4 linked regions of the Homo sapiens genome follow. The protein of the gene in region 2 interacts with the protein of the main gene of each other region in a pairwise test. Each region holds a gene or a part of one and is shown on either strand. Other genes may lie near its edges. The genes, in order: SPG7, BDKRB2, SLC2A8 and AATK.

Evidence for each region.
Region 1: the proteins of BDKRB2 (region 2) and SPG7 interact in a two-hybrid assay, tested with the Homo sapiens proteins (one large-scale study listed by BioGRID and IntAct).
Region 3: the proteins of BDKRB2 (region 2) and SLC2A8 interact in a two-hybrid assay, tested with the Homo sapiens proteins (one large-scale study listed by BioGRID and IntAct).
Region 4: the proteins of BDKRB2 (region 2) and AATK interact in a two-hybrid assay, tested with the Homo sapiens proteins (one large-scale study listed by BioGRID and IntAct).

Annotation. Positions count from the first base shown.
Region 1 is NC_000016.10:89,525,124-89,529,162, forward strand, and holds part of SPG7 (mitochondrial inner membrane m-AAA protease component paraplegin isoform 1 precursor), read left to right. Parts: intron 1-1,205; coding exon 1,206-1,345; intron 1,346-4,039. UniProt on the Homo sapiens protein: Catalytic component of the m-AAA protease, a protease that plays a key role in proteostasis of inner mitochondrial membrane proteins, and which is essential for axonal and neuron development.
Region 2 is NC_000014.9:96,211,059-96,215,097, reverse strand, and holds part of BDKRB2 (B2 bradykinin receptor), read right to left. Parts: intron 1-4,039. UniProt on the Homo sapiens protein: Receptor for bradykinin. It is associated with G proteins that activate a phosphatidylinositol-calcium second messenger system.
Region 3 is NC_000009.12:127,400,169-127,403,668, reverse strand, and holds part of SLC2A8 (solute carrier family 2, facilitated glucose transporter member 8), read right to left. Parts: intron 1,113-3,500; coding exon 916-1,112; intron 10-915; coding exon 1-9.
Region 4 is NC_000017.11:81,124,382-81,128,420, reverse strand, and holds part of AATK (serine/threonine-protein kinase LMTK1), read left to right. Parts: intron 1-510; coding exon 511-629; intron 630-750; coding exon 751-838; intron 839-1,860; coding exon 1,861-1,994; intron 1,995-2,465; exon of another isoform or gene 2,466-2,544; intron 2,545-3,047; exon of another isoform or gene 3,048-3,145; intron 3,146-3,406; coding exon 3,407-3,491; intron 3,492-3,572; coding exon 3,573-3,694; intron 3,695-4,039. UniProt on the Homo sapiens protein: May be involved in neuronal differentiation.

The sequences.
Region 1 (4,039 bases), on a different chromosome or scaffold from region 2:
TAATTTTTAAATTTTTTGTTTTTTTGGAGAGATGAGGTCTCACTATATTGCCCAGGCTGGTCTTGAACTCCTGGCCTCAAGTGATCCTTACACCTTGGCCTTCCAAAGTGCCAGATCACAGGCGTCAGCCACCACGCCTGGCGCTGTCTTGCTATTTTTAAAAACAGGAAACCTTGTTCTTAAAATACACCATGGCTAAGTGCAGAAGACGGTGCTCATTCACGTAAATCCTCTGGTGGATGCCTGATTATTTCAGTCTGGAAGGTTATTTTAACCTACAACACTATGCTCAGCTCTAGACGAGTCACCTGATAAAACAGCTGCCTTAAAGAGAAAATGCTCAGAATTCTGTCTTAGCAGTTTGGGGTGTGAGTGAGGGAGCAGCAGGTGCCATCCCCACCCCTCATCCCTGTCCTCTGCTGGAGTTTCCAGTTAACCTCAAAGAGAGTCCCGCAAGTCCGTCTGTGTCCTCCCTTTGGGGTGTTGCCGTCCAGTCATGCTGAAATCTGAGCTAAACATGCGGAGTTTACTTAGGAAAACGCTGCGTTTGGAGAATCGTGTGCCAGGGAGACGGACCTGTTGGTGTCCTGGTGTGAGGGATGAACAGTCTCAGGTTTTGTGGTTAAACATGAACCCTCTGTGGCCGCAGTTTCCTAAAACATCTGTTTTTGGCCGTAGTCTTGATTTTGCCATCCTCAGTCCCGTGCTGCAGCCTCGCCGGCCTCTGGGGGGCTCCTGCTGTGTCTGCAGGTGTAGCTGAGTCTGAGGCACACATCAGACGTGGGGCTGTGAGCTAACTTGCAGACATCCCTCCATTTCTTAGTTTTCCTATGAGTGGAAAATAGAAAGTCTATCTGTTGAAATTTTATTTCTCAAATTGTGGTTGAGGAAACAAATTTTTTAGACTTGGAAGTACAGATGTTCCTTGAATTAGGATATTTTCAGCTTCCCAGGGGCTCACTGGGAGGTAGCCCCATCGTAGGTCAAGGAGCTTAGTGTGCATATTGCTTTTACACCATTGTAAAATGGAAAGACCGTAAGTGGAACCGTCGTACGTTAGGAATCACCTCTAGTTTCTGAATGGTGTCCTCTTCACAATGCTGAGGTTGTCATTACCATGAGTTCCAGGCGGGCTCTCTGTTGACTGTAGGGTTGCTCGTCTGTCCCTGCGTTTCTCATGGTCCCCTCTCCTTTCTGCCCCCCAGCGGCTAGCCTTGATGTACCGAATGCAGGTTGCAAATATTGACAAGTTTGAAGAGAAGCTTCGAGCAGCTGAAGATGAGCTGAATATCGAGGCCAAGGACAGGATCCCAGTTTCCTACAAGCGAACAGGATTCTTTGGAAAGTATGTTGGATGTATTTGTTGATGCTTGAACTAAACCTAACTTGGCTTTGTAATCTGAGAAACAGATTGCAATCAAAAATCTCAAACTGTCTTTGCCTATAGTTAACTAGACTTTTTAGTGGGAGGGTTAAATAAATATAGAAGTGAATGATACAATGCCAGGAGATTTGGAAATATAGTTATCCCTGGGTATCCATGGGGGCTGGTTCTCGGACTTCCCAAGGATACCAGCACCTGAGGATGCCTAAGCCCCTGGTGTAGGATGCTGAAGTCTAAGCCCCTGATGTAGATGCCGAAGTCTCAGCCCCCGACGTAAGATGCCGAAGTCTCAGCCCCCGACGTAGGATGGCGAAGTCTCAGCCCCCGACGTAGGATGCCGAAGTCTCAGCCCCCGACGTAGGATGCCGAAGTCTCAGCCCCCGACGTAGGATGCCGAAGTCTCAGCCCCCGACGTAGGATGGCGAAGTCTCAGCCCCCGACGTAGGATGGCGAAGTCTCAGCCCCCGACGTAGGATGGCGAAGTCTCAGCCCCTGGTGTAAAATGCCGAAATCTTTGTGTGTAACCTAAGAACATTCTCTGATATGCTTTAAATCATCTGTAGGTTGATAATAATACCCAATACCCTGTAAATACTATTTCAATCGTTGTTATACTTTAGGGAATAATGACAAAAATGTGTCTGTGCATGTTGAGTATAGATGCACGTTTTTCCCCAGATACATTCATTCTGTGCTTGGTTAAACCTGCAGAGATGAAACCTGTGGCTGTGGAGGCCAACCGTGTGCAAGTCCGTTGGAGTTTGTTTAGTCACTTTCTTTAGTTGTGTGGCGCTTCTGAATTCACATTCTTGTATAATTTTCACTGACTGTGCTCTTTGATGAAAGCTTCCCAAATGGTCAGAGTGAGTGTGCAGATGCCGGAGATACCTAGTGATCTGGCCAGCCTTGTGACAATAACAACGTTCAGCTTTTTCTATTTTCAGTATATTTTGTTTTCAAAAGTAAGCGATCACTTTCAGTTAGCAAGGCAAGATCAGCCTAGCAGTAAGAAAGAAAGTCAAGGAGGACCGTGATAATGTCCTGGGCTTGCTCTCTTCTACAGACAGGAAAATGGAACGGGAAAAGGGTAGACACAGGAAGGTGAAATTCTCATTTCAGTGTTGAGAGGGAAACAGACCAGGTGGGAGCTGTCAGCACGTATGGACCATGGACCCTGACAGGTTCCTTAGTAGGACAAATGAGGGGCCAGCGGGTACTGAAACAGAGGTTTATTGTTGACTTGTAATCTCTGAAGATGTAGAATGCCAGTGACTGGCAAGTACTCCCTTGATCAAAATGTACCTCTAGCCGGGTGCAGTGGCTATGCCTGTAATCCCAGCACTTTGGAAGGCTGAGGCAGGGAGGATCTCTTGAGCCCACAAGTTCGAGACCAGTCTGGGCAGCATGGAGAACCCCATCTCTACAGAAAAAAAAAAAAGATGCACCTTTAATTCTATAACCCAGCAACACCTGGAAGATCACTGCTCTGAGGCTGTGTGTCTCATGTCTTTGTAGGCCAGTGATGTACAGAAGATGGAGGGTTGGGGCAGGCCCATTCTCGTGTCTTCGTAGGCCGATGATGGACAGAAGGTGGAGGTTTGGGCCGGGCGCGGTGGCTCACGCCTGTAATTCCAGCACTTTGGGAGGCCGAGGCGGGCAGATCACGAGGTCAGGAGGTCGAGACCATCCTGGCTAACACGACGAAACCCCGTCTCTACTAAAAATACAAAAAAAATTAGCCGGGTGCGGTGGCGGGTGCCTGTAGTCCCAGCTACTCGGGAGGCTGAGGCAGGAGGATGGCGTGAACCCGGGAGGCGGAGCTTACAGTGAGCCAAGATAGCACCACTGCAGTCTGGCCTGGGTGACAGAGCCAGACTCCATCTCAAACAAAAAAAAAAAAAAAAGAAGAAGATGGAGGTTTGGGGCAGGCCCATTCTCATGTCTTCGTAGGCCGATGATGTACAGAACAGAAGATGGAGGGTTGGGGCAGGCCCATTCTCGTGTCTTTGTAGGCTGATGATGTACAGAAGATGGAGGGTTGGGGCAGGCCCAGGGCAGCCCCTCCTCAGGATGAGGGCAAAAGTCCTGGGATTTGCTTTTTTTTTTTTTTTTTTTTGGAGTCAGGGTCTCACTCTGTCGCCCAGGCTGGAGTGCAGTGGTGCAATCTCAGCTTACTGCAGCCTCGACCTCCCAGGATCAGTGATTCTCCCACCTCAGCCTCCTGAGTAGCTGGGACTACAGATGCACACCACCACATCCAGCTAAGTTTTTTTGTATTTTTAGTAGACACAGGGTTTATTCTTACATTTTTCTTTTCTTTTTGAGATGGAGTCTTGCTCTGTAGCTCAGGCTGGAGTTCAGTGGCACGATCTTGACTCACTGCAGCCTTCACCTCCTAGGTTCAAGCATTTCTCCTGCCTCAGCCTCCCAAGTAGCTGGGATTGCAGACGCATGCCACCATGTCCAGCTAATTTTTGTATTTTTTTAGTAGATATGGGGTTTTACCATGTTGGCCAGGCTGGTCTCAAACTCCTGACCTTGTGATTCACCCGCCACGGCCTCCCAAAGTGCTAGGATTACAGGCGTGAGCCACCGCGCCCGGCCTGAGATTTGCTTTTTACTCTTAGGCTGATCTTGCCTGCCTGATTGAAGCTG
Region 2 (4,039 bases):
CCAAGTTTTCTGTGAAGAACATATATTCCTTTGGCAATAAAAATATTTAAATAAGCCAAGTGTTTGGAATGAATTATGGGTTTATTTACGTAAAAAAGATAATCAGCCAATTTGTGCTTAAAGGAACTCTCTTAGGTCTACAGCTGCCCCCCTGGCAGCTCTGATGCATTCGCTGCTGCAGAAAAGCCTGAACCCAGCCTGATTTTTCTTGCTTTATGGATTGCCTGTCCCCGCCCCCACCAACTCCCCAACCTCCAGTCAATCTGGATGCTTATAGTATTTTCTTTTTCTCTTTTCCATTCAAAAGTGCTGTCAGATGTATTTAGGGGACACTGTCTCGTCTCACCCCTTTTCATAACCTGTGAGCCGGGCAAGGCACCATTGCATAGGTGAGGGCTTGGAGGCTGGAGAGATGAGGGACTGGGACTCAAACCACATTTCGGGATTTGGGGACATCTCCTGGCTGTGCCCTGAGGCCACCCCGACTCTGGCATGTGAGGCAAACCTGCTGTACAACGAAGGGGTCTGGACGAGGGAGTCTCACCAGGGGTGTTCAAATCCCAGCTCTGCCGGTCACTAAGGGAGGGACTGTAAGTGTGTGGCCTCCTGTCAGAGCCCAGGTCCCCGCTTGTGGGATAAGGAGCATTGTCCCCGGCAGGAGGGCTGTTGTGAGGATCCAGTGTGGTCATCCCTGGCACTCAGGAATCCTTCCTGTTGGTTCCCGTCCTCTCTCAGGAATGACAGTCGCCTCCTCTTTCCCCCAAATCCACAGATTGTTCTGTCAAGTGATGGGCCTGGGTGCCCTCACCTCCACCCCCTCAGCCACAGACACCACAGTCCAAACAGACTCCCGGAAGATATGGCCCAGACCACTTGCAGGGAAAGTCCCTGCGGCTGTACTCATCCTCATGGAAAACATGAGGACTGGCGGGGACTGGAGGGCAGGGAGTGAGGGGACATGCAGGGTGCCCCCGTCACAGGGCAGAGGGCTCTGACTGGGGCTTTTGGATCACCGCCCACCATGGGGAGGCCCAGGCAAGGGACTCATGCTCCTACCCATCTCTCCAGCCCCAGCTCCTCCTTCCCCTCCTGTCCCCTCCCTGCCCCACTGGTCTCCCCTGGCCCTGCCTGAGCATCTTTGGGAGTTCCCACCTCTCGACCTTTGCTTATGTAGGGAGGCAGGATGCGATGGGAAGACCCAGGCCAGGCTCCAGGGCCAGCCCAGTCTCTAGCTAGCTCTGTCTCCCCTCTAGGGACCATTTCCTCAACTGTCAAGTGGAGACACAATGCCTACTTGGCAGGTTTGTCGGGGGGGATACTTGTGATTGTTTTGGGGGGCCAAGGGTGCCCTGGGGCTCAGGCATATGTCAATGGCACTGGGCAGTCTCCCCTACCCTTTCTCTCCACTGTGCACCCTCCCTTACTTAGGGAGACCCTCTACTTTACCTAGGTCTAGGTCCTCCAACTTGAAACCTGCCCACAATGACACATCAAACATTGTAGGTGTGTCATAAGCTGGTGTGAGGACATGCAGGCAGCAAAGAAGCAACTTGTGTGTGTACACGTGTGTGTGTGTGTGTGTGTGTGTGTGTGTGTGTGTGTTTGGGTCGGTCCAGACAGAGGCCCAGGAAGAAGAAGAGTGGAGATCCTGCCACATGGCTCCTGATGCTGGAGGCTTAGGGACAAACCATCAGTGTGACTGTCCCAGTGTCCTCTGGGGATGGGACTTGGGGTTACAGATTCAGAGAGCTGTGTTAGAACCACTTGGGTCTCTGCCTGTCTCTCCCACCAGGCTCTCAGCTCCTTGTGGGGAAAGATCTCTGAGCTGAGGGGAGCCCTGAGCAGTCTCTCAGTAAGTGGTTAGGGGAGGAAGGAATAAACCAGCTTCCTGAGTCTAGGCACAGTCTGGGTACTTTCATACACAGTCCTATTGTGTTGGCACAGCAGTAGTCTTTATCACACAGGTGAGAAAGGAGAGGTTCGGAGAGGTCAGTGACCTGTCCTGGGTTACTCAGCAAGTAATTGGCCTAGTAACCTAACCCAGGACTGTTGAACAATCGGGCCAGTTGGTGCCAATTTCTAAATATTGACTATTAAAAAAATACTGGTGGCGAAATAGCTAGCACATCTGTGAGCCTGTTTGGGTTGTGGGCTCAGACCGAACTCCTATAAAGCATATGAAGCAGAGATGGTAGAATCCCAGGCAGGGGCCATGGAATGGGGGAGGGGGCGTTAACTCCTGCTATCCTACCTTTCTATAGGTGAGGCGCCTGCTGTTCAGAGACACAGGAGCATCAGCAAAACCCATCAAAGAACTGGGGGCCAGGGTAGAAAGGAGACCTTTCTGGGGGTGCTGATGGAAACTCCTACCCAGGCAAATCTTGTTTCCCAGGCATTCCCCCAGTGAAGACTGCACTGCTGTGCCCAACTTTGGCTGCAGGCTACTCTTTACCACCCAAGTGAGCCGCCACCCACTGATCTCTGCCATCAACTTATTCTAATTCTCTGCATAGCACATAGCACTTCCTGGGATTGCCCTTCTCCTGTCTGCTCTTCAAAGAGCCATCCTTAGATGGCCTACTGACATTAATGCTTTTTACCTTTCTAACTTGTCATTTTGTTTTTGTAATTCTTTTCTTTCTTCTACTTTTTTGGATCATTATTATCTAGTTTATTGAATTGAACAGTTTTTTTTTGCAATCTTTTTGGTTTAATAATTTAAAAATTTAAAGGCATGACTCATCCCCTGACTATGGCTTTGGCTGCATCCCATAAGTTTGGTAAGCAGTGTTCTTATAGTTAGTTGTTTCTCAAATATCTATAATTTCAGTTTTGATGATCTGTCTCTTTGATGTAACAGTGTTTTCTAAAATTTTCAAGTAGTTTATTTCTATTCAAGTTTGTTTTGCTTTTTATATTTAAATTTTTGCAAAGAGATATGCATCCTCATGGTAACATTTCAGAGTGCGAAAAAGAATACAGTGAGGGGTAGGTCTCCCTCCAGATTCTGTCCCTGCCTGTTGCCTCAAGAGACAGCCAGGCTCACTGGTGTCTCCTGTTGCTTTCCAGACATCTTCTGAGCTTTCAGGAGCAGATGTGCACATATCCATGTATAAGGACGCCTGCAGAAGCACCCTAAATGCACCGCCGGCTGTGTCCTCACCTCTTTGCATTTAACAATCTGTCGACCCACCTTGCTTTTCAATAGCCTCACAGTATTTCAGAGTAGGACTGCCCTGTAATGCACCGGCCTTCGCAGGGAGTTCCCAGTTTTCGTAGGTAGTTTGCAATTCTACTACTATTTATAGCTGAAGGAACCGAAGGATCCCAGAGACCACATCTCTTGCCCTAGGTCACACAGCAGGGGAGGAATGGGGTGGGATTCAATCCCTGTGCCTGGCTTCCGAAAAAGGAGGAGCGGGAGGAGGAGGGAGAAGGGAAGTGGGTGGAGAGAGGAATCATCTTCACAGAGTCCATCTCCCCAATGTGCTACAGTTCATTTGAGGAGTCCCCCCAGGTTTTCACTACTTTTGGCTATCACAAATGATCAGCACAGATCCCTCATCTGCAGGCCCTGGCCCACGTGTGAGCACACCTGTAGCAGGTGTGCAGACCCTCTCCTGCCTCCCCTGACCTGTTCTTGTGTTCTAGCCATTGCTTTCTGGATCTTTCTGTTCAAAGAAGACCAAGAGGTCCTTCTCTCACCTCTCACTTTGCTAACCGGCCAGTGGGCTCCAGAGTGGGGGTGATGTACCCCAGGTGCAGCAGCGCATGCACAAGGTGCAATCTCCGAGGCTCCGGGAGAACCCCAGAGAGCCTCCCTCTGTGGTCAGGGAGTGACCCCTGCACTCTTAGAGCACAGCAGGTGCCAAGCATGAGTGGGTGCTAGGGGCTGAGGGAAAGGCCCAGTCTTTTCCCTCGAGAGGATTCCTGTTTGGTAGGGATGGCGGGGCACAGCCTGATGCTTCCCGAAATGTTTGGGCCCAAATCTACCTTGAAAGGAGCTGGCTGTGAGCTGTGTGCATTTAACAATCTGTCC
Region 3 (3,500 bases), on a different chromosome or scaffold from region 2:
GTGAAAGCTCTGCTCTGACGGATACTGGCCATCAGGATTTCTCTCTCCCCTCCCGCAAGCGGCCCCCCTCTGGGGGTCTACTGTCCTAAGGCTTGGGGAGCGCTGACTCCCACGTCTTGGCTCCTCATCCCAGCACCCCCTGTGTCCTCAGGTGTGCAGACAAGTCCCAGCCTCCCCATGTGTCAGGTGAGATGACCCTCACCTGCCCAGGGCACTTCCTGATAGGTGGGGGGGAGCCACAAAGAGGTAATCTGGGCAAAGAGCAAGCTGCTGCCCTCATCCCTGCCACCACCAACACATCCAGCACCTGCCTCAGGTCTGGGCCTGGCCCTAGCTAAGCACCTCCTACAGCCCTGACCCTCCCCTCCCCACTGAACCCATCCTCCTCGCTGACCCCACCCTCCCCACTGAGCCCCCCTCCTCCCTAAGCCCCGCCTTCCTTTCCCCCACTGAGTCCCACCCAGCACTGTGAAGCAGGTGCTGACTCCCACATCACAGGTGAAGAGCTAAAGCTTAGGTGAGGGGCAGCGTGGGGGCTTCAAACCCATGCCTGGGTGACTCTAAAACCCAGACTTTTAGCCCTCTACCCTGCCTTGCAACTCCTTTGTTAAATCCAAGTCCTCAGCTCTGCCTCTGTATCCCCCACCAGGCCTGGCCATTCTCTTCCTGGGACAGTAAGGGTCAAAGCTCGGGCTTTGCTGGTGACTTTGGAGGCCAGGGCCCAGCTCCGTGGGGCTCCAGCTGTCTTGGCCTGCTCAAAGACAGGACACACTGGGCCTGTCCTCGCTGAGGGTGGAGGGTGGATAGGCACCTCCCTGTCCCCCACCCCCCAAGTGTGTGGCCTTGGGAACAGGCTGTGCTACCCTCCCGTGACTGCTGTCCCACTCCTGTCAGCTCTGCCTTCCAGCCTCTCACCTGCTCAGCCCCGATGGGGGGGTCTTCCCAGCCCTGCTCGGAGCCCCACAGGAACCGCAGGGCGGCCATGGCCTCCTGGCGCCTGTGCTGAGTCAGCAGGAAGCGCGGGGTCTCGGGCATGAAGCACATGAGAAGCAGCATGAGGGAGGGGGGCACGCAGCCCAGCACAGCCAGCCAGCGCCACTCCAGCACCCAGCCTGCGGGGGGTGGGTGGAGGAGGCTGGCGTCAGAGCCAGGGTGAGCCAGCCTGGGCCTTGCCAGCCTCAAAGACTCAGCTTCAGAGATGGGGCCTCGCTGCCTCTGCACATCTGCCCTCATGTTCGCTACTGACATTGCCATTATCACAACTGTTCATGAAGGCACATGGCACGGGCCAATCACACCAGCTGCGGAAGCGACAGTGGGTATGACAACGCGGACATTACTAGGCTGCATCCGTTCAACGAAACATTTATGTAGCCACAAAAATGAAGGATGAGGTGCTTGCTGCGTGTCCGCATGGTATGATGTGGCACCATTTGTAGAAGAGGTGGGGGAGGGAGGATAAATATGCATGTCCCTCATATGAACAGACTCTCTGAAGGCTACCAAGAAACAGGCAATGGGGACTCCCCCAGACAAGAAAGGGACAGAGGCGGAGGAAGCTTTTCACTGGACATCTCTCCACTCTGGCACTTGAGTGTTGAGTCATTTGAATGCATTATCTATTCAAAGTATACATGAAAGTAGAGAGGTGAGAGGATTTTGCTGTCTTGACGTATGAAGAACAGCATAAGTGCAGAATTACCTAGTTTTATATAAAGTTAAAAGGTTCTCTTACAAAGGGGCCCTGGAATAAATGAGTCTAGGGCATTGCTGCTCTAATTACTAATTTTTCCTAAGCCCAAGGCTTACCCATCCCTGGTTCCCAGTGGAAAAATACCTCTAAGGTAGCCATGATGTCCCTATTTTTCTTCTGTGCTGGGGGTGCAGACAATTGTTCTATGAAGTCTAGTCGTTGGAACATGATTGCCCCAATGTGAAGCAAACGTGCCACCACCATGTCACTTTGTGGAGTTATCAGAGTTCACCCACCCCAGTGGATCGAAACTCACAGAAATTGATCAGGAAAGGCAGGAGAAGCAACAAGCACATATTAAGATGAGCTGAAGATAGTGCCACGGGTGGGTGGACACCCAGTACCTGTCCCCGAAATGATGAATGTCAACACCTGCACACAGTGGGGGCTTTGGTTTACTCAGGTCTCCCAAGGTAGCCAGATCGCTGGCAGGATTCTGAATTTGTTAGGGTGGTTAAGTGGGTAAAAATGAAACACCAAAGACCTGTGTATCATCCGCCCTGACGATGCAGAGGGCTTGTGCCCTGGGCCAGGCCATAGCCCGTCAGGCCCCCGAGGCCTCCTACCCCGATGATCCCCATGGTTCTCAAGTCATCCCTTGACAATTCTCATTTGGAACCCACTGTTAGGCACTTTTCATGTGTCAATTAATTTAATGGACAGGTACTGGACTAGATGAGGTTATGCCCATTTCAAGACAGAGAAACTGAGGCTTTCAGAGGTGGTATGACTTGGCCAAGGTCACACAGCACGTAGGAGAGGCTATCCCCAAACTCAGGATGGTCAGATTTGAAGCCTGCCCTTGTTTTTTCTTTCTTTTTGAGACAGAGTCTCACTGTGTCGCCCACACTGGAGTGCAGTGGCGCGATCTCAGCTCACTGAAACCTCAGCCTTCTGGGTTCAAGCAATTCTTGTGCCTCAGCCCCCCAGGTAGCTGGGATTACAGGTGCCCACCACCACGCCTGGCTAATTTTTGTATTTTAAATAGAAATGGGTTTTCACCATGTTGGCCAGGCTGATCTCGAACTCCTGACCTCAAGTGATCCGCCCACCTCTGCCTCCCAAAGTGCTGGGATTACAGGTGTGAGCCACTGGGTCTGGCCTCTAAAGCCTGGCCTCTTTCTAATGAGAACACACCTGTCTCCTGAAGTTTCTTCATGCTGGCCCAGCTTTGCCCCTCGGGGTCCCCAGGACCCCGGCCTCCTTCACGTTGCAACTCGCCGACATGGTGAATCTGGCACTGACATTCTCAGGGGACTTGCTCAGCCCTTTACTCGCCCGGGCTGAAGATTTTTACAGGGACCCACCCACCTCTGGAGCCCTCTGGTTTGTCACTGCACAGTAAGGTACTGACCTAAGCAGTCAGCCCTTCCCACACCCCTAGAGGGGGCTTCAGGAAAGCTGAGGGTATCACCTTCTCCAGCTGTCCCTGGAACTCAGTCATAAGACACACCTATCGGCCGGGCGCGGTGGCTCACACCTGTAATCCCAGCACTTTGGGAAGCTGAGGTTTGGCGGTTCATGAGGTCAGGAGATCAAGACCATCCTGGCTAACACGGTGAAACCCCCTTTCTACCAAAAATACAAACAATTAGCCAGGTGTGGTGGCACATGCCTGTAGTCCCAGCTACTTGGGAAGCTGAGACAGGAGAATCGCTTGAACCCAGGAGGCAGAGGTTGCAGAGAGCCACCACTGCACTCCAGCCTGGGCGACAGAGCGGGACTCTGTCTCAAAAAAAAAAAAAAA
Region 4 (4,039 bases), on a different chromosome or scaffold from region 2:
ACACAGGGCTGCAGACCTGCTCCTCCTAGGAGCCACCCCAGCCCCGACGGTCCCTTCTTCAGTCTCTGGGCCCTGCTGGACCCTTCCCCAGGGAGGTCCTCAGCATCTGGCTGCATCCCCTTCTCCCTAGGGGGTCCTGGGGTCAGAGGTACCTGGGGAGGGGCCCTGGGAGGGAGAGGAGCAGCCTCTTGCTCATGGCCTTCCCCTGACCTTGGCCTAAACGAGACACCTGGGTCCCTCTTCCTCACTTCAAACCCCCAGAGAGAGAGAGAGAGAGGGCAGCGGGGGACCTTGTGGGGAGAGTAACACGAAAGACTCAGAATATTACAGCCAGAGGGTTGCCGGGAGGGATCCGGAAGCCATACCTCACGCTGCAATGAGTGGACGGGGCACAGGAGGAGAAGTGTCCTGTCCTGGGGGCCGGCGTGGGGCGGGTGGGAGAAGAGTAAGGCCTGGAAGCCGGGGCCGGTGGAGGCGGAGCAGCCGTGGGTGATGCTGTCTGTCCCACAGGTGTTCCTGGGGGAGGTGAACTCTGGCATCAGCAGTGCCCAGGTGGTGGTGAAGGAGCTGCAGGCTAGTGCCAGCGTGCAGGAGCAGATGCAGTTCCTGGAGGAGGTGCAGCCCTACAGGTGGGAGGCCACCGGGCACAAAGGCCTGTGCTGTGCGGCCCCCTCCTCTCCCTCCCCTGCTCGGCCCGACTCCCCCTCCCCACCTCCTCCCAAGTCAGGGGCCGCCTGTCCACTCCCGCAGGGCCCTGAAGCACAGCAACCTGCTCCAGTGCCTGGCCCAGTGCGCCGAGGTGACGCCCTACCTGCTGGTGATGGAGTTCTGCCCACTGGTGAGCTGCTGCCCGGGGGGATGCTGGGGTCTTTGCTGAGCCGGGGCCCTCCCTTGCCCTGCCAGTGTCTGGTGCCACCCCCTCCTTGGGGGCCTCACATCCTCCCTAAAGCCAAGACCCAGGGACCCTGCCCCCACCACCTTCCAGAGGAGGCGATGGGGAGACCTAGCCTCACCAGGGAGGGACTGTGGGGGCTGGGCACAGAACAGGCCTGGGCTGGGGCTCCCTGCACCCCTGGGGAGCTGCCAGCTGCTTGGTCACCTGCTTGTGTGCCCTGTGGTTCAGGAGGAGGCATCCTGGGCCAACTGGGGGGGGGCACTGGCCCACTTGGGCTCCACGGCCTCACTCAGGCTTGCTTTTGCCATGGGGGGCTGGGCCTGGCCACTTCCCCAGGCTGCCTGGAGTTCTGGGCCTGCCCATCAACGCCCCCCGCCCCGGGGACCTGTCCCCCCCTCCCCCTGAGACCTGCCCATCAACGCCCCCCTGCCCCGGGGACCCGTCTCCCCCTCCCCCGAGACCTGCCCCCCACCCCCTTCCACATATGCAGCTCCTGCACTGAGCCGAGGCTGTCTGTGGCTGGGCTGGATCCCCTGCTGGCTTCCCTCGGGACAGGGGCCCTCACACACTGGCGTCTGGACTCCTGACGTTGACCGTCCCGGGGCTGGGCTTTCGGCAGGTCAGGGGCTGCCGGCCAACCCTCGACCACCAGCCCCAGACTCCATCAAGCAGATCCACTTGGGCCCTGTGTTTCTCTCTCTACCACAGGCCAAGGGACTCCTGCTGCCCGGGGCTGGCTGAGGGGCAGTGGAGAGGAAGCCTTCAGTCCAGCCCAGCCCTGGGGGACACGGCCCCCCTCCAGGAACTGCTGGGTGCTGGCCACTGTGCAGGGCACGAGGCTGCTCTGGGCAGCTGCTGTCCCTCAGCTGTGGGTAGGGGTGGAGGAGTTGGGGAGGTAGGTGGGGACCTCCCAGGGTGGCCAGCCCCCAGCCTGCTGGTGACTGCGCCACACCCCCTTTCTGCAGGGGGACCTCAAGGGCTACCTGCGGAGCTGCCGGGTGGCGGAGTCCATGGCTCCCGACCCCCGGACCCTGCAGCGCATGGCCTGTGAGGTGGCCTGTGGCGTCCTGCACCTTCATCGCAACAATTTCGTGCACAGGTGAGGGCGGGCGCGGGCCAGCGGCCGGGAAGCCCTAGGCCAGGCCCCTCCCCTGAAGGAAGGGCATAGGGCGGGTCCTGCCTCAGGGGGCTTGCGAGGACCGGCCAGGTTCATCTCATGCAGCATCAGACAACCACTATGCAGAGGGATTTTATGACGTTTTTGAAAAATTGGGAAGACAATGGTTTGACACCCACTTTGCAGGTTTAGACGAAGAGATGCGTACTGTCAAGCTGGCCTGTTCTCTGTCCCCGAGGCAGTCAGCCAGCACCCTGCAGCCCCGCGCCAACCCCACACTCTGCTAAGCCCTCGCTTTGGGGCTTGAGGGAGACAGACCCTGCTTCGAAGGACCCTGGAGGGAGGGTTCTGTCCTGCTTGGGCCAGGATGCCCAGCCCCTGGGGACCCCGGGGGGACATGCTGGAAGAAGTGGCGAAGGACACGTGGCCCCGTCAGCCCCAGACGCCGCACGGCTGTCCTCTCCAACAATATCCTGGTGCTGAGTGATGACTCAGGCGACTCCAGCATCAGTGATTTTGTTGAAGAGGGCAGCTGCCAGCCTCCCGACCTGCCTGCCGGGCCCCAGCTGCCCTGCCCCCAACCCCAACCCACCCCACTCCACCCCCTAGGCCCAGGACACATGGCCCTGTAGCGATCCCCTGGCACGCAGACATGGGTTTTATGTGGGGAGGGACAGGCTGGGTTGGCCTCTGTCCCCACCCTGAGTCCTGAGCACAGAAGTAATACGGCAGCTGTGGTAATATCTACCCAGTACCCTGTGCCTCCTCACACCCACGTGACCAGCCAGGCAGGGTTCAAAGCCAGCAGCCAAGGCAGGCTGGGTTGGAGGTAGTGCCAGGCGTAACCTGCATTCTTTCCAGACCCTACCCAACCCTGGGGCCAGTGGTGGCTCAAGTGAGAGTGAGCTCCAGCTCTGAGTGGGCATGGCAGGGCTGGACCCTAAAACTGGACTCCGGCAGCCGGCAGGACCCCTGGGACACTCCAGGCCTCAGTTTCCCCATCAATTCCCACCTCCTGGGGAGCCGAGAGTGATAGTGTAGTAGAGCTAGGAGGAGAGGGTCCTGGAGAAGCGTGGACCGGTCCGGGTGGGTTCCGGCAGGTTCTCACCCTCTCTAGGCCCCATTCTCCTCTGCACTGTAACATTTGAGGCCCACGCACACAGTCCCTCCCCAGGTCTCAGGGTTGGGCACAGAGTAGGGCCCTGGGCAGGGATGGGGGGTGGCAGTGTCTCCAACGCCCCTTCCAGCCTGGACTGTGAGCCATCCAAGTGTTGGCAAAGGACCCTGTGCTGGATGCCCCCGCCCGGCACACCCCACTGACCCTCCCCCTGCCCCCACCCGGCACACCCTGCTCACCCTGCTCACCCTGCCCCTGCCCCTGCCCCTGCCTGCAGCGACCTGGCCCTGCGGAACTGCCTGCTCACGGCTGACCTGACGGTGAAGATTGGTGACTATGGCCTGGCTCACTGCAAGTACAGAGTGAGTGGGGTGGGGTGGGCTGGGCTGGGCATGAGGGGCAGGGCCTGCGCCGGCAGGGGTGACCCGTCCCTGTGCCAACAGGAGGACTACTTCGTGACTGCCGACCAGCTGTGGGTGCCTCTGCGCTGGATCGCGCCAGAGCTGGTGGACGAGGTGCATAGCAACCTGCTCGTCGTGGACCAGACCAAGAGCGGGAATGTGTGGTGAGTGCGGCCCTGGTGGCACCGTGAGGGGCCGAGGCCGAGTGCCACCTGCCCACCCATGTCAAATCATGGCCATGAGTAGTGAGGTCAGGGGGCTGCCGGAGCCACCTGTAGTGGCCACACGCCAGCAGCCCAAGTGGCTGGTTGGGTGGCGACCCCACACCGGGGGAGATACCACCCTGACAGGGTGCCCCAGGGACCCCATGGTGGGGTCAAGGCATACGTACAGGGCCAACGGCCCGTCTTCAGCATGCCGGGGGGTCTGTCCTGAGACGGGGGCCTTGGTGAGTACCTGTCCCTGGGGAGAGGGTCTGGGTGGGGTGTTGGCTGCCTTCACGGGAGCGT